Linked DNA regions of Homo sapiens. Each later gene encodes a partner of the first gene's protein in a complex. Each region holds a gene or a part of one and is shown on either strand. Other genes may lie near its edges. The genes, in order: RPTOR, RICTOR and MAPKAP1.

What was found.
Region 2: RPTOR (region 1) and RICTOR share a complex: the UniProt entries of both Homo sapiens proteins name them as parts of the mechanistic target of rapamycin complex.
Region 3: RPTOR (region 1) and MAPKAP1 share a complex: the UniProt entries of both Homo sapiens proteins name them as parts of the mechanistic target of rapamycin complex.

Annotation. Positions count from the first base shown.
Region 1 is NC_000017.11:80,547,447-80,555,525, forward strand, and holds part of RPTOR (regulatory-associated protein of mTOR), read left to right. Parts: intron 1-8,079. UniProt on the Homo sapiens protein: Component of the mechanistic target of rapamycin complex 1 (mTORC1), an evolutionarily conserved central nutrient sensor that stimulates anabolic reactions and macromolecule biosynthesis to promote cellular biomass generation and growth.
Region 2 is NC_000005.10:38,938,400-38,946,478, reverse strand, and holds part of RICTOR (rapamycin-insensitive companion of mTOR), read left to right. Parts: coding exon 1-11; intron 12-754; coding exon 755-988; exon of another isoform or gene 989-1,410; coding exon 1,411-1,566; exon of another isoform or gene 1,567-1,909; coding exon 1,910-2,033; exon of another isoform or gene 2,034-2,245; coding exon of another isoform or gene 2,246-2,278; intron 2,279-3,507; coding exon 3,508-3,646; intron 3,647-4,100; coding exon 4,101-4,175; 3' UTR 4,176-8,079. UniProt on the Homo sapiens protein: Component of the mechanistic target of rapamycin complex 2 (mTORC2), which transduces signals from growth factors to pathways involved in proliferation, cytoskeletal organization, lipogenesis and anabolic output.
Region 3 is NC_000009.12:125,668,598-125,676,676, reverse strand, and holds part of MAPKAP1 (target of rapamycin complex 2 subunit MAPKAP1), read left to right. Parts: intron 1-1,379; exon of another isoform or gene 1,380-1,523; intron 1,524-4,033; 5' UTR 4,034-4,102; coding exon 4,103-4,361; intron 4,362-6,769; coding exon 6,770-6,859; intron 6,860-8,079. UniProt on the Homo sapiens protein: Component of the mechanistic target of rapamycin complex 2 (mTORC2), which transduces signals from growth factors to pathways involved in proliferation, cytoskeletal organization, lipogenesis and anabolic output.

The DNA.
Region 1 (8,079 bases):
TTAATTTGTGAATGATCAACATTCCCTAATAAGCTTTTCACAGGTTGTTAAGAGAAACAAAAGTTCTGTGACTCTTAGTGACTACTGAGATTGCTGCTTAGAAAGGAGCTGGGGAGAAAGTTTGCTGTATCTGTTTTTCGGTGGAGAAAATCAGCAGCTAACATCTTCAGTTGAGTGTGTGGGAGTTTGGAATCTTGTCATCTCTTCCCTCTTCCAAAGGTCAGGTCCTTTGGAATCTTGTCATCTCTTCCCTCAAGGACCGTATCACACATGCTATAGGACAGAAGTTGCAAACTCAAATGATATTGAGTGGGGATGGTAGCATAAGAGAATGAAACAGGCCACATTTAAGAAGAATAATGGCATAGGTTCAAAGATAAAGACAAATGGCAGCTGACATTTGGCACAGTGTGTGTGACAGTTTCTGGAGGGTGGGAACAGGGGCTCCCTGATGCCATAACTGAAGGGGCAACTGGGCTATGGCCAGGCCTCTCTCTTTGTCTTTGAGAAGTCAGCAAACTTTTTTTTTCTTTTATTGTAAATATTCATACTAATTCAGATTTATTACCAAACACACTGTAGTCCAACACTGCAGGCTGAACAACCCCATTTGTGGAGTGTTTTTCTGTTTCTTTTTTTTTTTTTTTTTTTTTGAGACAGGGTCTTGCTCTGTCATCCAGGCTGGAGTACAGTGGTGAGATCACACGGCTCACTGCAGCCTCGACCTCCTGGGCCTGAGTGATCCTCTCACCTCAGCCTCCCCAGTAGCTGAGACTATAAGTGTGCGCCAGTGTGTCTGGGGTTGGGGAGTCTCACTGTGTTGCCCAGGCTGGTCTTGAACTCCTGGGATCAAGCAATCCTCCTGCCTTGTCCTCCAAAAATGCTAGGATTACAGGCATCAGCCAACACGCTCAGCCTGGGGTGGTTTTTTTTTTTTTTTTTTTTTTTTTTTGAGATGGAGTTTCATTCTTGTTGCCCAGGCTGGAGTGCAGTGGTGTGGTCTTGACTCACTGCAACCTCCGCCTCCCAGGATCAAGCTATTCTCCTGCCTCAGCCTCCCAAGTAGCTGGGATTACAGGCGCCTGGCTAGTTTTTTTTGTATTTTTAGTGGAGATGGGGTTTCACCATGTTGGCCAGGCTGGTCCTGAACTCCTGACCTCGGGTCGTTCACCTGCCTCAGCCTCCCAAAGTGCTGGGATTACAGGTGTGAGCCACAGCACCTGGCCCTGGGGTGTTTTTTGACCAGTGGGTTACCTACGTAAGAATCTCTGTTACCCAGGCCTCCAGGCCACACAGTCCCACTGTGCTGGACGTAGCCTCCAGTCTGGTGGAGCAGCATGTTTGTAAAGTGAAATGTGTGGGCGTGGTTGTTCTGTGCTAGGAGCTACATCAACTACTTCCTGGTGGCCACTGACTGTCCTAAATGCAAGCTGAGATTTTGCTTCTTCTTGTGGTTAATGTGCAATTCCATACGCTTTTATTTTGTACATATATTCATTAGTTCTTACTGGCTCCTATTTAGTAGCCTTGCTACAGATTCCTCAAATTGACATCTTTACCAAAGTTGACTGACTGATGACTCCCAAGAAGTTTTTTTTGCCACCCAACACTTGGCATCCTTCCAGAGCTACAGCCCTTGCCCGCTCTCAGTTGGGATTCCTGCCATCTTTGTTTTGAATCAGTCTTGGTTTTCAAATGCCACTTTTACCACATTTTAATTTCTAAGTTACTGTTACTTTAAAATTATTATCAAGTTAGTTTGTTGTTTGGTTAATTCTACTATGTATAGTGAATGAGGCATATATGTATCCATAGTGTTTTTAGCTTGCAATTTTCAAATAACTAGACATATATGAATTGTAGTTCAAAATGAATCATTCACAGACCTTTGGCTAAAACAGATACGTATATATCTCCCCTATTTGTGTTTTTGGCTCACTGCAACCTCCGCCTCTTGGGTTCAAGCGATTCTCCTGCCGCAGCCTCCCGAGTAGCTGGGATTACAGGTGCCCACCACCATGCCTGGCCAATTTTTTTCATATTTTTATTAGAGACGGGGTTTCACTATGTTGGCCAGGCTGGTCTCAAACTCCTGACCTCAGGTGATCCACCTGCCTCGGCCTCCCAAAGTGCTGGGATTACAGGTGTGAGCCACCGTGCCTGGTCTAACTGTGATACTTTATAGTTATCACAGAGTTCATTTTCCTACTGGAAAGTGGACAGTGGGGATAACTGGTCTCAGATGACTCTTTTGCCTGGAATATGTGGGATGGAATGACGGGTGCTTGAGAGCTATTGCTCTGAAAGTGTTGACAGACATGCTATGTCTACACACATGTAGACTGACAGACACTCTGTCTACATGCATGTAGCACCCCTGGCAGACACATTCTGTGTACACATGTGTGGTGTCATTGTCAGACACTATTTCCATGCATGTGTAGGACCACTGACAGGCATCCTATGTCTACATGTGTAGGGGATGAAACGGTTAGATGAAGAAGGCTATTTTGTAAACCATTCTCTAGACTCAGTTGCATTGCTCTGTAGCCATACTTTGCCCAGGTCATGGAGGAAGCAGAGTAGATCTGTTCAACTAATACATGGACTGCCAAAGGTTTATGCGGTCTTTTCAGCAAGGGTAATAGCAATCCTTCATAATCTACACTACCCCCTCTGCTTTCCTCACCTTGCGTCCTCTCCACATTCCAACTGTGCCCTGTTCCACTCCCCTGAGACTGGTCTCCATATGGCCCCAGTTTGTTGCTAAATCTAAAGTTCTCTTCTCTGTCCTTCTCTGTTCTTATTTCACCTCTCAGCAGCATTCCACAATGTGGACCATGGCCTCTTCATAAAGCTCTTTCCTCACTTGCTTCTGTGTCTCCACGAAACTCGGATTTTCCTCTTAGGTCACTAGTTGTTCCTTCTCAGACTCCTTTGCTACCTGACACCTAAATGCAGGGGCACCCCAGGAATTGATCTTGGACCCCATTCTCTGTTCTGGGTGTGCCCCTCCCTAGCAGATCTCATCGGGGCCCATGATTTTAAATAGTGTCTACATGCCAGTGATGCTTAAACCCCCAATCTTTAGTTCTGATCTGGCCTGAAATTTCTGTCTCAGATGCCTACTGCCTGCTTTTTCTTAGTTTTCTCCATCACCGCTTGCCACAACCACCATCCACTCAGTTGTTCAAGCTGTAAGTTTAGAGTTTATCCTTAATTCTTTCCTCTCCCTCTCTTTATCGCCCCATCCAATTCATTAGAACCCATCAGCGTTACTTCCAAAGCATGTCTTACATTGGCCTGCTTCATTTTGTCTCCACTGATGCAGCCCCAGTCCAGGCAGCCACCGTCTCTTGTCTGGACACTGCATTTGTGTCCTGACTGGTCTCCCTATGTCCATTCTTGCCCTACAACCAGTTTTTCACATAGCAGTCAGAGGGATCTTTTATTTATTTTGAAATGGAGTCTCTCCTTGTTTCTCAGGCTGGAGTGCAATGGCGTGATCTCGGCTCACTGCAACCTCCACCTCCCGAGTTCAAGAGATTCTCGTGCCTCAGTCTCCCGAGTAGCTGGGACTACCAGTGCATGACACCATGCCCGGCTGATTTTTTGTATTTTTAGTAGAGATGCGGTTTCACCATGTTGGCCAGGCTGGTCTTGAACTCCTGAGCTCAAGTGATCCTCCCACCTCAGCCTCCCAGAGTGCTGGATTACAGGCGTGAGCCATCACACCTGGCCAGAGGGATTTTTTGAAAGTGTGAAGGGGTGGGTTGCCCCTCCACACCTGTGGGTGTTTCTTGTTAGGTGGGACGAGAGACTTGGAAAAGAAAAAGAAACAGAGACAAAGTATAGAGAGAGAAATAAGGGGACCCAGGGAACCAGCGTTCAGCATATGGAGGATCCCGCCAGCCTCAGAGTTCCCTTAGTATTTATTGATCATTCGTGGGTGTTTCTCCGAGAGGGGGATGTGTCAGGGTCACAAGACAATAGTGGGGAGAGGGTCAGCAGACAAACACGTGAACAAGGGTCTTTGCATCATAGACAAGGTAAAGGATTAAGTGCTGTGCTTTTAGATATGCATACACATAAATATCTCAATGCTTTACAAAGCAGTATTGCTGCCCGCATGTCCCACCTCCAGCCCTAAGGCAGTTTTTCCCTATCTCAGTAGATGGAACGTACAATCGGGTTTTATACCGAGACATTCCATTGCCCAGGGACGGGCAGGAGACAGATGCCTTCCTCTTGTCTCAACTGCAAGAGGCATGCCTTCCTCTTCTACTAATCCTCCTCAGCACAGACCCTTTACGGGTGTCGGGCTGGGGGACGGTCAGGTCTTTCCCTTCCCACGAGGCCATATTTCAGACTATCACATGGGGAGAAACCTTGGACAATACCTGGCTTTCCTAGGCAGAGGTCCCTGTGGCCTTCCGCAGTGTTTGTGTCCCTGGGTACTTGAGATTAGGGAGTGATGATGACTCTTAAGGAGCATGCTGCCTTCAAGCATCTGTTTAACAAAGCACATCTTGCACCGCCCTTAATCCATTTAACCCTGAGTTTGACACAGCACATGTTTCAGAGAGCACGGGGTTGGGGGTAAGGTCATAGATTAACAGAATCTCAAGGCAGAAGAATTTGTCTTAGTACAGAATAAAATGGAGTCTCCTATGTCTACTTCTTTCTATACAGACACAGTAACAATCTGATCTCTCTTGCTTTTCCCCACAAAAGTGTGAATCAGATTCTGTTACTTCCTTACTGGTGGTCTCCATTGGCTTCCTCTGTGCTTAAAGTAGAACTCAGACTCCTCTTGCTGGTTCACAAAGCCTTCATGATTTGGCCTCTGCCTGCCTTTTCTGCTTCTTGGATAGAAACTCCTGGAATGCTTTTCTCTCTGATCTTTGCACACCTGGCCCCTTCTCGTCGTTCATACTTAGCATCTAGGTCCCTTCCTCAGAGAGGCCCACCATCACCCCATCTGAAGCAGCCACCCTGTCACTCATAAACCCTCCTGATGGCTATTTATTTCTCTGATATTTTTCTCCCTACTTCCTCCTGGAGATGTGAGCTTTTCATCATAAAGCAAGGACCTAGTCTAGTCTATGCTAGTCCATAGGGCAGTGCTTGGCACATAGTAGGGATTCAACAAAACTATACTGATACAAAATGGATAGTTTACAAAAGGCTTCCACATACATTATCTTTAAGGCTCAACAGCACCATAAATTACCTAGGGATCATTCTCTCCGTGTTACTGATGAGGTAACTGACGTTTTAGTTGAATGGCTTACCTAAAGTTACATAAGTAACATGGCTAGCAGTGAGAGGAAGTGGAACCTGTGCAGAGGGAGAAACAAAGTTTAGTTCAAAACAAAACAAAACAAAACTGTATCATAATGTCTCCACTGAAACATTTATGTTAAGAGGTCAGGGGGTTGAAAATAGCAGACCAGCAGACCAACATTCAGCAGACAGAGAAGGATGCTCAGTCTGCTCACAGCATGTGCCCTGTGCACTGGGGCTTCTCCTAGACCCTTGCAGGGATCCACAAGGTCAAAACTGTTTTCATAATAATGGAACACCATTGGCCTTTTCCACTCTGTTGATACCTGCACTGACAGTGCAAAAGTGATGAATCAAGACAGCGGTGCCAAGCTGTACTACTAGTTCCTGATTTCTTTGCCATGCACATGGAGAGAATGTCCTTGCTAATAAAGCAGTGAAAATGATGACTTTTACTAAATCTTGACTGTTAAGCACACATCTTTTTCAGACTGTGTGTGCTGCTCCTTCTCCTGCAGGCAAAGCCCAGTGGCTGCCTGGAGGAGGAGCATCTGCTGCCTTCATGGACGCAGCACGTCCCAAAGGAATCACCGACAGGCCGCCTCTGGATGTTGAGGCCTGTGTCCACGGCAGACGTGTTTTTGAAAATGAACTTAGTGAGCTGTCACTTCAAGGAATACAGCTGACAGTATTTGCTGCCAGTCATGAAATTTGAACCTTCAAGTGAAAATTGGTTTTGGAAAACTTGTATCTGCCGCTGTGAGCCTGGCAGCTTCCCAAGACTTAAAGATGTTTCTGGTGAGATCCATAGTGATATTAATGAATGGAATTAATGTTGTAGAATGAAATGTGCCCACATTTGGAACAGCTGCATAATTCAGTGAACAAATATTTCCAGATGACCAATCCATGATATTATAAAATCATCCATAGGTAAAAGATCCGTTCAATGTTAGACCAGTGGATTTTAATGTAATAGGGTACAAAAAGTTCACCAGAGGATAGGTGTTTTTTTTTCTTTTTTTTTAAGACGGAATCTTGCTCTGTTGCCCAGGTTGGAGTGCAGTGGCGCGATCTCGGCTCACTGCAACCTCCGCCTCCCAGGTTCAAGCAATTCTCCTGCCTCAGCCTCCTGAGTAGTTGGGATTACATGTGCCTGCTACCACGCCTGGCTAATTTTCATATTTTTAGTAGAGATGGGGTTTTGCCATATTGGCCAGGCTGGTCTCGAACTCCTGACTTCAGGTGATCCACCTGCCTTGGCCTCCTAAAGTGCTGGGATTACAGGGGTCAGCCACCACACCCCGCTTGATGTTCTGTTGTGTGCGTGTGTGTATATTTTTTGTTGTTATTTGTTTGTTTCACAGTTCACTGCATCCTTGACCTGGGCTCAAGTGATCCTCCTGCCTCAGCCTCCTGAGTCGCTGGGACTACAGGTGTGAGTCACCATGCCTAGATTTTTTTTTTGGATTTTTTGTAGGGATGGGGTCTCACTATGTTGCCTATAGTGAGAGTTTAAATATTTTATTCAAATAGATTGCAACAGATCTTTAAGAAACTACCACTTACTCAATTTTGTTGTAATATCAAATAATAATATTCTCAATTATTTGGATATTCTGATACTCCTGCCATTATGTATCTTTGTGAGGCCAGATTTTTCTCACATACTTCAACCAAAACAGTGTATTTCAACCCATTGAATGTGGCACCAAAAATGAGAATCCAAGGTGGGGTGCGGTGGCTCACACCTGTAATCCCAGCACTTTGGGAGACTGAGGCGGGCAGATCATGAGGTCAGGAGATCAAGACCATCCTGGCTAACACGATGAAACCCCATCTCTACTAAAAAATACCAAAAATTAGCCGGGCGAGGTGACGGGCGCCTGTAGTCCCAGCTACTTGGGAGGCTGAGGCAGGAGAATGGCGTGAACCCGGGAGGCAGAGCTTGCAGTGAGCTGAGATTGCGCCACTGCACTCCAGCCTGGGTGACAGAGTGAGACTCTGTCTCAAAACAAAACAAAACAAAACAAAACAAACAACAACAACAACAAAAAAAATGAGAATCCAGTTGTCTTCTATGAAGCTGGATATTAAAGAGATTTGCAAAAATCTAAAAAAAGCCACCTGAGACAAGTGACAAGATAACTGACAATTTTTGAAAATATAGTTATTTGTAGAAATGTTATTTATTTGAATATATAATAAGTTTGATTTTTAAGTGAATTCATAAATATATCAATTATGTTTTTCTGTTTTAACCTTCAATACGGAAAATGTTGATAAATGAAACTCATAAAAAAGCTCTTTGAGGGTCTTCAGGAACCTTTAAGACCGTAAAGGGGCCCTGCTGCCAGATGTTTGAGAGTTATTAGTGTAGTTAGAAGAAAGTGGGCCTCATCCTTAGGAAGAAGGGCTTGAGGATATCAGGTGGCTGGTCAGAAATGTCAGGCAGGGCCTTGAAGTGACATTAGATAAGAAACATAAAGGCCCTAATCTGTTGCCCTCTTTCCATTCGCTCTGCCTAAAGAACTGTTGAGGTCTCTGGACTTGGAGCTGGGAGGATGTTTGTGAAGAGCCTGTGTGATTGTGAGGGCAGTGGCCTTACATGTGGCCACCTAGCCCTCCATCAGGTCCTTCTATTGCTCCAGATTTCTAGTGTGTGTCCGGAGGGAGATGCACCACCGCCCACCCAGTAGCTCTTGTGCTGGGAGTGGAGGAACACCCAGTCTGTCTGGAGGAATGTCCACTCTGTCTGGCAAGGAGGAGGTGGCCAGAGGTTCAGCCAAGGTG
Region 2 (8,079 bases), on another chromosome or scaffold:
TGATGCAGGAGGTAATGCATTGTGCATTGTACTTGTGAGATGCCTCTTTATATTAAAAAGAAAACTCTTAGTTCTTTCTAGTAGGATAACACTAAAAATTTAGGAAGACTCACTTTTGGATCAACTTTAAAATTATACCAAAACAATTGTTAAAGTCAGCTTAAAATTAAACCACATTTTTGTGTATGTGTGAGGGACTTAACAGTGTTTTCAGTGAAGTACTCAACCTTTCAAGGAAATAGAAACCAAATTAGTTGTTTCTGTTTTTTAAAAGTAGCACATGAACAATGTATAACACTAATCCTCATAGATCCAGGAAATAGCTGTTTGTTTAGAGTAAGGAGAAAGAAATGTACTTATAAAATACACGGTCTTTGTTTTGAACTGTTATATTTTAATATGTAAATATAAGCCACAGGTTTTATAGCTTTATATTCTTAATGACTTTTTAAACAAATGCCTCTTTATACTTAGAATTATTACATATCTTTAGGCAAATATTGACGATAATTGAAATGATGTATTATATAATCTCAATTTTCCATTTTGTATTTAAAACACTATATATTAAAATAATAAACATCTGCTGGCTTTCCTTATTTTTATAACTTAAAGCAAATTATTCTTTTTTTCTTTCCAGTTAGATTTTGAGTCATAAAATGTGCTTAAGCTTTCTTTAAAATTTCACATAATTTAAGGTACCTTGAAAAGTATTATCTTTATTGGATTATGTTTTATATTTACTTATGCACAGGTCTTCCATCTGGAACTGGAGGTCTTGTAAAAAATTCTTTTCACTTGCTACGACAGCAGATGAGTCTTACGGAAATAATGAATTCAATCCATTCAGATGCCTCTCTGTTTTTAGAAAGTACAGAAGACACTGGACTACAGGAACATACAGATGATAACTGCCTTTATTGTGTCTGTATTGAAATTCTGGGTTTCCAGCCCAGCAACCAACTGAGTGCAATATGTAGTCATTCAGGTAAGTGATCACGTCCCACCTTCAGAAAAACCTAGTGATGACTAAAGTTCTCTGGTTTACTTTTCCAAATTTCTTTTTGGTATTCTAATTCAGAGTTTCCCAGCTGGTGAGCTGCAGCACACTGATATGCCAAATTATGTTATGCTGAGATGCTGATCCTCTCACGGTTCCAGGTCACAGTGGGGCCTGAGTCTGACAGATCCCTGGATTAGGTCTTTTCCACTGTGAACAGCCCTGTCCAGGCCCTTTGCATGCTGTAGTTATTTTCATTTTCTATGAGGAAAAAAGTTTTGGAAGTGTTTGGTATATTGCATACAATTAGAGAAGATGTTATTTTATATTATTTCTTTTTAGCATGCAATGTAAGCACAGGAATTAAGCCGTTATGGTGCTTTAATTGAAATAATTATTTTTTTCTTCAGACTTTCAAGATATTCCATATTCTGATTGGTGTGAGCAGACTATCCATAATCCTTTAGAAGTGGTTCCCTCTAAGTTTTCGGGGATTTCTGGATGCAGTGATGGGGTGTCTCAAGAAGGCTCAGCTAGCAGCACCAAAAGCACAGAATTGTTACTAGGTGAGTCTTCAGATTCAAATCCAATCATTATTAGTAAAACTGTTCTGATTAGTTGGTTTTGTTTTGTTTTTCGTAAATACTGTAAATTAAAGTTGTCTCAAAACAGTAATACGTCCATTTTAGTGAAGCAATTTAACACTGTTAATTATTGCACCTATATCACCCACTGACATAGAGCCTCTTAGCTATCTGCTTTTATTAGAGTTTTGCTCCCAAAATGATTGGTAGATCATGTGTAATTGATCTCTAGGTCTTTAGGTGAAGTTTAAAAATAAATTTCATGAGTTTTAATCATTTTATTGTGACATAGATAATATTTAACTTCTCCCTGAAATCTTTTCAGGTGTTAAAACAATTCCAGATGATACACCAATGTGCCGTATACTCCTTCGCAAAGAAGTTCTAAGATTAGTCATTAATTTGAGTAGTTCAGTTTCAACTAAATGTCATGAGACTGGGCTTTTAACGTGAGTAAACTATGTGCATGAGTATTATTTGTTTATTCTGTTTTTTAAGTCGAGAAAAGATACTTGAAATACTTCAAAAGTTAGGCTAGTTAACTTACATCAGTAGTTCTAAACTGCATTGCATACCTGTGTGAGGCTAGATTTTCTTTAATACTTCAGCCAAAACAACATATGGCAACAGATTGAATGTAGAAGCAAGTATGAGAATCCAGCTATCTTCTATTAAGCCAGACTTTTGAAGAGATCTGCAAAAAATGTAAAATAATGCCACTCTTCTCACTTTTTTACTTTTGGAAAATACAGTTATTTTTATTAAAATACATGTTAACATGTAATGGATTTATTTTTAAAATAAATTAATGCATGTTAGGAAATTCTCTCAATTTTAATTTCTAATATAGTAGTTAATGGTGGCTGTAACCCACACAAAAATAAGCTTTTTTGGGTCTTCAGTAATTTTTAAGAAAGTAAGTCCTGAGACCAAAAAGTTTGAGGAAAGTGGGCTTACATGTAACAAGTCATATTTTCTTGGTTTAATTTTTTTCTTATTATTTAAAGCAGTGGTTCTTAAAAGAAATGCACCTCAGGGTCTCCTGCAGGGCTTTTTTATTTTGTATTTTGTATTTCTTTTTTGAGACGGAGTCTTGCTCTGTCACCCAGGCTGGAGTGCAGTGGTGCAATCTCGGCTCACTGCAACCTCTGCCTCCCGGGTTCAAGCAATCCTCCTGCCTCAGCCTCCCAAGTAGCTGGGATTACAGGTGTGTACCACCACACCTAGCTAATTTTTGTATTTTTAGTAGAAACAGAGTTTCGCCAGGTTAGCCAGGTTGGTCTCAAACTCCTGACCTCAGGTGATCTCCTGTCTCAGCCTCCCAAAGTGCTGGGATTACAGGCATGAGCCACCGTGCCCAGCCAGCTGTAGGGCTTTTTTTTAAGGGTGATATAGGTATTGGGGTCCCACATAGGTATCAGGGTCCCACAGCAGACCTCTGGGCTGGGAGCTCTGGGAGCGGGCCCTTAACTGGTCACTCACCCAACTCACAGCTGATTCTGAGGTGCTTTCCTAGCTAAAAGCTGCTATTTGAAGTATCCAAAGAAATAGCCCAGTCAGGGATGTTAATAACTTAACTTTAAAGATGTATTTCTATTTTAAAACTTAATTTGGAACATATTTTAATCATCCTAGGCTGATAAATATATTTTGCAATTTCTCATGCCAATAAAAAAGAATGCTTCAATTTTACAAGAAGTATTCAGGTTTTGATAATCATTTTTTTTAAAAAAAAACCCAAACTCAGAATGTCTAAGTGTGTGACAGGAATATTTAATATTTTATATTCTCAAGTCATCACCCCAAGTATGCCATCTAATCCATATCTGTAGGGAAATCTATTTTTAAAGTAAGTGATACCTTGGAGGAAAAATAGATACATCATGATTACAGTTTTCATCACACCATAATCTTTTATTTTAGAATTAAGGAGAAGTATCCTCAAACATTTGATGACATATGCCTTTACTCTGAGGTTTCCCATTTGCTGTCACACTGCACATTCAGACTTCCGTGTCGGAGGTTCATACAAGAATTATTTCAAGATGTACAGTTTCTACAAGTAAGTATGATTAGTACTTCTCAAATTTATCTTCCAAGAATAATTCTGTGTTTGAATTGAATTAAAATACAGATTATAGCTGGGTGTGGTGACTCATGCCTACAATCCCAGCACTTTGTGGGGTCAGCGCGGGAGAATTGCTTGAGCCCAGGAATTCAAGACCAGCCTGGGCAACATAGTGAGACCGTGTCAACACAGTTTTTTTTTTTTTTTAATTAGCCGAGGTTGGTGTCATCTGCCTGTATTCCCAGCTACTTGGGAGGCTGAGGTGGGAGGATCATATGAACCCAGGACTCAGAGGTTGCAATGAACAAAGATGGCAACATTGTGCTGCATCCTGGGAAGACTGAGCAAGACCCTATCTCAAAAAAAAAAAAAAATTAGATATTTATATAAATATGTTATATCATCTGTTTTTATAAAAGTAATTGATGATACACCATTTTTTCCCTAGATGCATGAAGAAGCAGAGGCTGTGTTGGCAACACCACCAAAGCAACCTATAGTTGATACATCTGCTGAATCCTGACCTCATATTTATGATGGATATAGATACATACTATATATATTCATATTTGTGGATTTCCTAAAAGCCTCAGAAAATACGACTGACTAGGCAGCAAAGACAGGAGTATCTTCTGTACACTGTTCCGCAGTTACTGGTACATGAACAGTTGGAACTGCTGACTTTCCTAACCAAAACAACTTCCTTCTCTCCTTTGTTGAGCCTTTTGAGGGGTTCATGATTCATTACCACAGTTTTAAGAGTTTCAGTTACCATTGTATGCAAGAGCCAAGCACTGAATACCTACATAGGTTTTCTATTTTCTTTCATTTTAAAAGCATAATGACAGTGGAACAATAATGGGATATGCAGAAGCACCCTTCACAAGTTATTTCTGAATGATTTTTAGGGTAAATAATACAGATGCCTTGTTTGTTAACTAACTTGTGGAAAGCAGGAATCAGTGTCTCTAAGGCTGCATCCTATTACCACAATGGGGTGTGCTATAACTGCTGGTATTAGAGAGGGAACTTTGGCCCTTTCACGTTTTTCTTAATGTTTGTAACACTACTTCAGAGGTTTATAACCTCAAAGCAGAAGAAGAGCCTCAACAACCCGGGACTTATAAGTTATTTTTATGTTACTAGACTTGCATAAAGATTCTTGTTTTCCAACTCTTCATTTTGTTGCAATGTGTTATTACAGGATATATGAACCAATTAAGGTTTTTCACTACAGTTCTTGAATAAAATTTAAAAATCATTTTTTATTTTAATTAAAAATATTTCCCATTTATAGAATGCATATATTTGCAATGGACTTCCACTTTCATCAACTTTCCATCTCATCGCTTTAAACAGGAACTTGAACAAGCACTGTTAGTTTAGACCTAAAGGATAGGAAAGCATTAAATAATACTTTGGATCTCCTGAGGAAAAGATAAGTTTGCTTGCAATTTACACATTCCATGGGGAAAGAAGAGCCATATTTCCTTAAAAAAAACATTAATAAAGCTTGTTATTGAGAAAAATTGTAGTGAAAAGCCTTAAGTACCAAATTTTAAAGCAGCAGTAACTTAATTTTTATATCAGTGTTTTTGTTTTGCACAAACTAAATGCAGTGGTAGGTGGGTTTATGAGTATATTAATTGCCTTTATCCATTTGTGAAGTTAAGTTGATGAGGGCAAGGTTTTTGTTTGTTTAATTTGTATATGTCTAAAGGTATTTGGAACTTTTTACAGGAATTAAACATATATGCAAATTTGTATATAAAAATAGCATGGCCATCATTTGAATGCTTGTAAATGAAAGGATTATCTTTTTTGAGATCTATATATAAATAGAAATAGAAAATCCAGCTGGACTGATTAGGATTCTTTTTTAATTCATTTGTGTATAACATTTTTATTACAATTACACATCAGTTTTGACACAGTCATAGCAACATTAATATTTTCCCATGATGCAGATCCTTTTTGTAATGGGCTTGTTCTTTGAGATCTCTGTAAAGAACCCTGTGAACTAGAAAACATAACTCACAGAGATACTTTTTTAAAAAATTTATTTACTGGAACTGAAAGTTCCAGTTGGGATGAAGCATTTCATCTCACTTCATAACACCTCTTTGACTGCACTTCAGTGAATTGTTCTTATGTGCACTGTGTAGCAACTTACATTATAACAAAGCAGATAAGGGCTGTAAGCTGCTGCTTATGTTGAAAAGTGGTTCTTCAGATTTTCTCTCATAAAATCCAGTTGAAGATAAATAATTTTTTTATACTTTATCACTGAACCCAAGTGTTTATTTAAATGTCAACAGTACTTCTAAGAACGTTGCCTGTCATCGTGGTCTTTGGTCTTGGATAACTAAACTGCCTTTCCAGAGAACCAAATGTCAGAGTTACTAGACCAAATAGTGGTTAAAACCTCCAAAGGAAGTAATGTAATCTTATTCATAATGGGATTAACATATTTTAGACATTCATTTTAAACACTACCTCAGTTAATATAGAGTATAAAAATCTGTGGTTTAATCCCTCAAAAGTTAACAGTAATTTTTTTTTTGTCTTACACACACACACACCCCCTCCCCCACCATCACTATCCCTGTACCCTCACCTTGGTCATCTATCCTGAAATAAGGCTTAGTTAGTATTGGCCTGAATGTTTTGTGTTTTTTTTTTTGTTTTTTTTTTTTACTGTTACTTTGAAAAATATGTATGTATACCTTATCATATCTGCCTATATCACTTACTTTGGGGAGATACTCAGAGCTTTGTGGTTATCAGTATACTAAAAAAAAAAAAAAGTCTACGCTTAAATTTATAGTGCTATTTGGTTTCTCCATGATTTCACTGACAGGTCTAATACATTTTCTTTGAGTACTTGTTTGTAAAAAGTAGACTTTATGGTGAAAAATACATGCAGTGCCAAGTGATTAACTTAAGTGTTTAAAAATATTAAATTATAGCAGAAGAGGTTAGGAATGATATCAGCAGTAATAGAAATAATTGAGAAAATCATCTATAAATAATAGATATTACAGACTATAGAATACCAAAATAATGTCAATACTGTAGTTTTTAAAGATTTTAGGATTAATCTTAGTCCATATAAATTTGTACTATTGGTAATTATTGAATAATTGGGAGGAATCTGGGCAGTTGTGCTGGTTGTAAACTATGAATTTCTAATCGTAAAGTGAATTGTTATTTCTAATTGAACTTTTTTTCAAGAACAGATTTCAGCCTCACATACTAAGTAAATACTGATAAATAAGGAAATTAGAAATTTAGTATTCATAATTAAATATGCTCTAAAATTTCCTATACTTTTATTTCCTGTTTATTCTTAGGTAGATTGGAAGGGGGAAACAGTCTGTTCTCCCTAATTAAATTTTTTCTAATAACGATTAGTAGAATATGGACATTCTATATGACAGTGACATTAAAAGAGGCTCTTTGGAAGTATATACATTATTAACATAATGTGTACAAGTCCTTTTGAAATGACAACTTTAATGGGTTTCAGCTCTTTTATCTAGAGCTTGAGATAATTCAAGCTGAGTTTTTCAGGGCATATCACAACGGCCAAGTGTTCAGCAGTGGGATATCAATGCTTATTTACATTTTCCTACTGCTATTTATATAAAATGTTATTCCATTCAGAGGATGCCTTTTATCCCCACATTAAAGCACAGATCATTAAGCAATAAAAACCAAATTGTCTGTCATTCAAATTATAACTGCAGTTATTTTTGCATGGTAAGAGTGAGGTGCTAATTTTGTGTGAGATGAACTTTGTAAACTACTTTGGGAAATGTTCTTTGGAAGTAAGGTTTTTTCTCCTTTAGTCTTATGCTTCCACTTTTGTCTCAGATTCACAATCCATTAAAACATGGGGAAAAAAGAAAAGGTAAAATTGAGAGACTTTTGTTAGAGGAGCTATTTGGAATGAACCAACATTTCAGATTTTCCAAAATGTAAGTTAGGAAGTCTCCATTGTCTCTGCATTAACAAAATACACTGTTACTATCTTAATCTCAAGAGTGTCATTACAGTGAGAATCTCATTTAAAAGCATACCAGTGAAATTAATAGCAGTGCTTATCAAAGAACACTGAAATCTGTGAGAATCTTTCTAGGAGCATTCTTTTCTTCTTTTAGTTCCAAGTTCCAGGGTATTTTTCATTCCTAGTAGGTTTATATGACTCACAGAATGTGGACTTTTTTCCTGTTTGGAGTATTTTTGTAATGTAAGTATCGGATAGCTGCACCACAGCATGCATAAATTGCACATTTTGTTTTACTTTCTTTATAGAATATTTAATTTCAAAAATATAATTTATGCCAAAAAAAGCATACCTTTCAATTTTGCTACTTGGTTGATTTAGCACAAAATGCAAAGTCTTGGGGCAGAGAGGGGGAGTG
Region 3 (8,079 bases), on another chromosome or scaffold:
ATAACTTTTCCATCTTCCCAAACTGAAATGTACCCGTTAAATACTTTTTCCCCATTACTACCTTCCTCCAGCTCCTAGCAACTGCTGTTAGACTTTCTGTCAGTTTGACTGCTTTAGGTACCTCATAAATGGAATCATACGGTACTTGTCCTTTTGCGACTGGCTTATTTCACTTAGCGTAATGTTCTCAGGGCTCATCAATGTTGTAATGTGTCAGAATTTCCTGTGTTTGAAGGCTGAACAATATTCCATCGTTATATACCACATTTTGTTCACCCTCTACCATGTATTGTTAATCGCTACTTAGTATTGTGTTGTTTGTATGTGTCATGGCATATGTGTACTATTGTAGGTTCCTTTTAGATTTCCAGTATTACAAATTACTCTGAGATAAATATTTTACACAATTATCTCCTTAGAACAAATCCTAGAAGTAGGATTGCCCAGATAGTATTCATGTTTTATATTTTGGTAAATATTACCAAATTACCGTCTAAAAAGTCCCAGTTTTCATTCCTTCATATTGTGCATGAGAGTGCCCATTTCTCTGAACCCTTGCCAGAGTTAGATTTTTAAAAATCTTTTTGATCTGTGCACAACTGATCAGAGAGTACAATTTGTTTTTATCCGTGATATGTATGTCCTTGTCTTGGAAATCAAACATAGCTTCAAATGATAATTTGCTGCTCTTTGGGAGATTTTTTAAAATATTCTTTTGGGTTTTGAAAAGTAGTCTTGTTAGAATAAGTTGAATAGTGTTCCAAGGGGACAATTTTGAAGGGCACGTTGAAGAGATGCTCTTGTATTACGAAAAAAAGACAATCCTTTATTTATAATCACACACTTACACCTGGCACATTCATATATGACTTATCTCTACAACAAAATTGAATAGTCCTTGGAAGTTAGACAGCAACATTTATTGAACTCCTGCCATGTATAACAGCCTTTGTTGCCAGAAGGAATATGGTGTTATGAACCCTGTCCTTGTGGAACTTATAGTCTAAGTCTTTAAGTACATGTAATTGGAGGTAAAAAGTGACATACACAATAATATGTTTTCTGGGGCAGTCCTGTGGGAGTTCCATATCAGAGCTGGTAGGGAATAAATATTTTTTGAATGAATCATACAGATTCCTTAATGTATGAAGTCATAGTGTCCTAATAGAGAAGATATCTGCTGCTGTTGAGGCATTTGTTCTGGGAGGATAAAGCTGGGAAGTTGGTATGTGCCTTCAGAAGTGTTTGCCCATTCCTCTTATCTTCAGAAGTGATCTATTTCCCTAGAATAGATTTTATTGAGGGCACTTCAGTATACTTTTGTCACTTTGCCTTTTGCCATTTGACTTTTTGGTGCTAGAACACCTATTAAATATCTGATCACTTCTCGGCCTTTTGGCTAAGATCAAGTGTATTAAATGTGTGACTTCTCATTAAAGCCCTTGTTTTTGCAAGGGAGAACTATTCAGTATGAATTTGAAAGCACCTGCCTCTCTACTGGTGACTAGCTGCCTTCCTTTCATGCCAGGAAGATGGCTTATTGTGATTGCTGTAGAAGGATGTTTGCAGCTCTGATCTGTGATACTATGCTTCCACAAATACTCTCATTTATAAATAAATGTGTGGTGTATACATTTTTTATGGTTATAGAGAAGTTTGTATTTTTACAAGTGAAATTTAAATGCTCATTGTTAATTTCATATTTTTTTCTGATCAATATCCTTAAAATGGTAGATTGACACTAATACTTCAGGGACCAGATATCTCAGAAATTTGATGCTTAAAGGAATCCCATGGTATTAGGAGATGTACTCGGTCTGTATTAGGGTATTAACTTTTTGATTCAGGGATACCTTACTCACCTTTGCATTTCCCATTAGCCTCAGAGTAAAATAAGTACTCAAGGAATATATTAAGAGGAAAAAAGTGAAGATTAATGTAATTTGCTTGATTAGAGATGCTCCTCAGTTAAATTTCTTTTTAATCTCAGTATCTTTATTTTAAGACCCACTTTAAGACACATCAGCAGAATGATGTGTTTCCAGACAACAATTTTTAAAACCTTAGTTAACTGTAAGGATTTATTAGCTAGATTTCCTCTCTATGTTCCATTTCTAGAAGAAACAGATTACAAGAAAATCTGGTGTTATAAGTCCTTCTGAAAGTAAGTATCTTCTAGGACTGTTCCTGGAAACATAGTCAATCCAGCTTTCATATTCCTTGTACTTCTCAACAATTTTGCAGGGGCAGGGAAGTCACTCAGATGACTTGCAGTGTCCTCTATCACAAAGGAAGCACAGACTTATTTTATGTGCCACGAACTTACTAAGACAGATGGGATATTGACATATTTTAGGACTACTTTAAGCAAGAATTGATCATTGAAATTATTGATTTTTTATCATTATTATTAATAGCTAACATTTATTTAATTACATGCCATGTATTTTTTTGAGCATTTTACCTGCATTATCTCCTGAAGCTTCCATTTTATAAATGAAGGAAAAAAAAAAGGGAGGCTCAAAAAGGTAAAGTATTTTGACTGAGATCTTATAGCTAACGAGTAATAGGGCCAGGGTTTGAACCCTTTCTGTCTCTAGGGCCTAGTACCTAACCGTTGTCCTGCAATATTTTCTTTGTTGAGTATTTTCACTTAACTGAGAGGGTGCTATCTTGTTACTAGAACAAATATTATTACAGTGTTTTTTGTATGTTTTGTTTTGTTTTGTTTTTAGAAGACAGGGTCTCACTATGTCACCCAGGCTGGAGTGCAATGGTGCAATCATAGCTCACTGCAGCCTTGAATGCTGGGGCTCAAGTGATCCCCCCACTTCAGCCTCATGAGTAGCTATGACTACAGGCATGTCCCACCATGCTCAGCTAATTAAAAAATAATAATTATTATATATATATATTTTTGTAGAGATAGAGTTTTGATTGTGTTGCCCATGTTGGTCTTGAACTCCTGGACTCAAGCAGTCCTCCTGCCTCGGCCCCCCAAAGGGTTGAGAGTACAGGTGTGAATCACTGTGCCCGGCCTCATTACAGTTTTAACAGGACTGAGGAAGCAGTTTTTATAATTAAGTTTCTAAAATAAGAAGTTGATTGTATAGTAGGTAATTTTGATTATAAATTTTATTTTAAAAACACAGGCCAGGCATGGTGGCTCACGCCTGTAATCACAGCACTTTGGGAGGCCAAGGCGGGCGGATCAACTGAGGTCGGGAGTTTGAGACCAGCCTGACCAACATGGAGAAACCCCATTTCTACTAAAAATACAAAATTAGCTGGGCATGGTGGCGCATCCCTGTAATCCCAGCTACGCGGGAGGCTGAGGCCGGAGAATCTTGAACCTGGGAGGTGGAGGTTGCAGTGAGCCAAGATCACGCCACTGCACTCCAGCCTGGGCAACAAGCGCGATACCCTGTCTCAGAAAAAACACAACAACAACAACAACAAAAACACAATACTATCTTGACAGGAAAATATATTCATTGAGCAACATTAATTTGGTGGTACATCATTTTTATAAAACCCCTAGTAACTCTGAAAGCATTGTCTGTGCCCTTTTAAACACTTCACAATCATATGACAGGAGGGGAAATGTAAACTGATGAAATAGAGTTTTGTACTTTAGCACATCATTTGAGGAAAATACAACTTGTTCCCCCATGACCTTATAAAGTAATGAGAAGATTGCATGATAGTGAAGGGAGAAAGAAAGGAAAATATATTGTTTTAACAGTAGTTATGTGCTTCGAGTGGCCTGACTTGTAAGGAGTTGCTGTGATTTGTTTTGCAAGAGTGCAAGCCTTCCTTTCTGATTCTATAGAGATCTCATTGACTAGAGCTGCAGCCCCTAGTGCTTATAAGGATTTCCTTTCAGCTTAGACTAAATCCTTTTAAGCTCCACAGAACAGGGATAAATGTTGATTTTCAAGGTGGCATTTTACTACACTGAATGTGTCTGAAAAATGATTCAGTCATTTTCTGCCTTATTCTTAAATATTTGCTGTGTACATCATGTTTCTAGGTAGGTGAGCTCGTGAAACAATATGAAGAGGAGAAAATAGCCTTTTAAGGAAATTGGCCCACAGAAAGGATGGCCTTCTTGGACAATCCAACTATCATTCTAGCTCATATTCGACAGTCACATGTGACCAGTGATGACACGGGAATGTGTGAGATGGTTCTCATTGATCATGATGTTGACCTAGAGAAGATTCATCCTCCTTCAATGCCTGGAGACAGTGGGTCAGAAATTCAGGGAAGCAATGGTGAGACTCAGGGCTATGTATATGCCCAGTCAGTCGATATTACCTCAAGTTGGGACTTTGGTATTAGAAGACGCTCAAACACAGGTAAACATTGTGTTCTAGTCATGTCTTCTGAGCTTTAAATCAGTAAACAGTCTTATGGAATAATGCATAATATTGGAATAGGCTTAATGGGGGATGTTTCCGGGTATTAATAGGAACATGCATATGTCAGACTAAGAGTGAGTCTGAGCAACATCTCCATCTCTGCGACTGCGAATGGAGAGGGCCTCTAGAATATTATTAGAAGTAGACAGAAGGGGGATAGTGAAAAAGTTGGTTAGGAGAGACATGTTGGACATTTCTAACAAGTCATTGTGTAGAAAGGCAAGTGGACTGGCTTTGAGTGTCTTCACACAGCAACATTAGTCCCAGTAGGTAGACTACCCGGAGACAGATTTCAGGTTGACATAATAAAGAGCATTTAATACAGAGAGGTGACCACCCAAAGAGAGCAGGCACTTCTTGCCCCTGGAGGAATTGTGGGGGAGTGGGGAAATGGGAGGAGACACCTGAGTATTTGTTAGGGCTGGTTTTAGTAGGATTCTATACATAGGGTGTGAGATTAGAAAAGGGGCCCCTGTTTTTGATACTTCGCCTTTATTTTCTTAAATTGATCACCTTTTGATTTTTCTGGCTTGAAAACACTCAACTTTGGTATACACGTATTTAGTCATTAGCTTTAAAAGCTTATTGCCCATTTTCCCACTTATATTTTTTTGGTGGCCTTGTTTCAAGGGGAATGTGATGAACCAAGGACTTTTTTTTTTACTTAGACAAATTATTTAGAATACATATTGTAGTTCTAATATGACAGGTATTCTAGGAGGTAATTTTTTTTAGATAATCAGAAAATATAATCTTCAAATTAGCAGTAACCTGCTAACTCCCAGGAAAGGTAATGGCAAGGAGATATAGTAGAACACTGAAAATACTTACATATTTATTTTCATGGTCCAAATGTAAAACACACATAAAGGAATATTGGAGGTAGAGCTGGATACAATTTACTGTGAAAGGCACATTCAAGTTTTGGTTCAGAATTCAGTATCTGTGACATAAGAATAATTTGCTCTCATGATGAAAATAATTAATAGCATTTCCCAGTATCTAAAGGAACTTTTGTCAAAATAGGATTTGAGTGAAGGTTTGAATATAATTTAGAACCATTGATTTTCAGTTCTCTAGTTGAAACTGACTTCCTTGCAGGTTATTGAGATGATATCTTATATGACAGGTTGAATGTATTTCAGTGGGAGAATGCTGCTAAATTGAGAGCTTTATGATTATATTACTTTGGCTGTACCCTTCACATTTATTAATTGCAATTGAATGTAGTTTTCTTCAGTGTTGGTTAGATATAGTGACATTGTCAGAATGCTCTTCCCAGCATAGTTTAAATTTCTGGTAAGATTATTTTCAGTGTTTCCCTACCACAATGCTAAGGCAGAAGTGTATAATTTCCTATCTTGAAAGAGGCGGAAAAAGAGATGTATTTATTTTCTATTAGCAAAATGCTGGGATAGGAAGCTGAAGATTAGCAAGAGAAAACTGATTTCAAGAGATGGCATCAATTGTGACTTTCTTTTTTATTGTGGTCTCTGTATGCGGCAGTTGTTAAGTGCATGCTGGGTGGTATTTCTCTAAAGGATCAGTTCACTGATTTTTGAAGGTTGATCAGCCAGTGGCAATATAATCACAAATGCATAATTTTAGGTGACTCTTGTTGGAATTTCTTTAGGTAGCACTTAGATGCTAATAATTAATTGAGATTGTAGGTTGTCTTAGTGACCAAAGAATTTACTTTTTAATCCATGCAGCATATCTTAAAATTTTGTAAAAGAAAAATTGTTCTTTTTAAGATTTGACTAATGTTACAAAGATACAAATCATTTATTTTACTACCTATAAACTGTTTCAGCCCACTGAAGAAAAGCTATGCTAATTTATATAGCTTTGACATTTTATAATTTTCATGATTTTTAGATAAAGGATTTTATATTTAAAACTTTAATAGTCTAGTCTGAGTTCATTTATCTTTAATTTTTGAAATGGGTAGAGTAATTCATAACAGTAATTTTATTCCTGTAATGTAATATTCACTTCAGTTCATTTGTGCATTAAAATTCCTTTAAGACCGTTATTAATGATTTATATAATGAAATGTCATATTAATCACAGAAGTTTTCACATTTTATTATTCTCTTCCATGTTAATACTATCTTTATGATCTCTATTAGTGTTTTATATCCTCTAATTTCAATTATAAATCAAGAATATTTTCATGTTTTTGTTGGTATTTGCTTTTCAGGGGTGCCACCTTTAAAATTTTATGACTTTTTCTCTACATATGCAATATAAAACATCTTTATTCATGTAAAGGTAGTTAATTATGTCTTTGTTTATGGTAAACTTTCATTGACAAACTTACAGTTATAATATTTCTTTTCAAGCTCAAAGATTAGAACGACTCCGAAAAGAGAGACAAAACCAGATCAAATGCAAAAATATTCAGTGGAAAGAAAGAAATTCTAAGCAATCAGGTAAATGGAAATGATTTTAATTCTTAATTTGAGATTTATATATTTAGTTTATTATATAAGAACTTTTATTTTTAATTCATCCTTTTAAATCCTCTGGACTTAGATACCTCTAGTGTTTTGAGCTTTGAGCTCTTTCTCTTGTGTGCCTTGACCCTCTGAAGCTATATGCTCTTTAGTTCTTGGCTTTTTGGCCACCCTTCACTCTGGGTCACAGGGATTGATGTGTGCAGGGGACATTTTTTACAAGCTGTCATGTCAGTATTTTTTTCTGATTTTTTAAAAAAATATAGGCCAAGGAGTACCCTATGATTTGATTTTTATTATTATTATTTTTTTTGAGATAGTGTTTCACTCTTTTTGCCCAGGCCGGAGTGCAATGGCACGGTCTTGGCTCACTGCAGCCTCTGCCTCCCCGGTTCAAGCGATTCTCCTGCCTCAACGTCCTCAGTAGCTGGGATTACAGGCGCATGCCACCACACCTGGCTAATTTTGTATTTTTAGTAGAGATGGGATTTCACCATGTTGGCCAGGCTGGTCTTGAACTCCTGACCTCCAGTAATCCACCCACCGTGGCCTCCTGAGGTGCTGGGATTACAGGCATGAGCCACTGTGCCCAGCCGATTTTTTTTTTTTTTTTTGAGACGGAGTCTTGCTGTGTCACCCAGGCTGGAGTGCAGTGGTGCCATCTCGGCTCACTGCAGCCTCCGCCTCCCTGGTTCAAGCAATTCTCCTGCCTCAGCCTCCCAAGTAGTTGGGACTACAGGTGCACACCACCATGCCTGGCTAAGTTTTGTATTTTTAGTAGAGATGGAGTTTCACCATGCCAGGCTGTTCTCGAACTCCTGGCCTCAAGTGATCCACCTGCCTTGGCTTCCCAAAGTGCTGGGATTATAGGCGTGAGCCACTGCGCCCAGCCCCTGTGATATTTTGGATGAGTTTCCAGGTTACAGATTTCTCTTGGCAGTTCCAACCTAGACTTTTCCTTGCCCCATTAGTGGGCCTAGTAACAGTCTTTTTTGCATATATGCAAATTCTTTTCCCTTAGTGTAAAAACCATTATGTTGCTGGTATTATTAGCATTTGCTGTATATTTTCATATAGTATGTGTATAAAGGCTGGCCATATTATATACTTTCAAAGCTTCAGTCTCAGCAAGAAGAAAAGACTTGGGGAGAAAAACAATTTCAGAAATAAAATGCTATTAAAATATTTTATAGTGG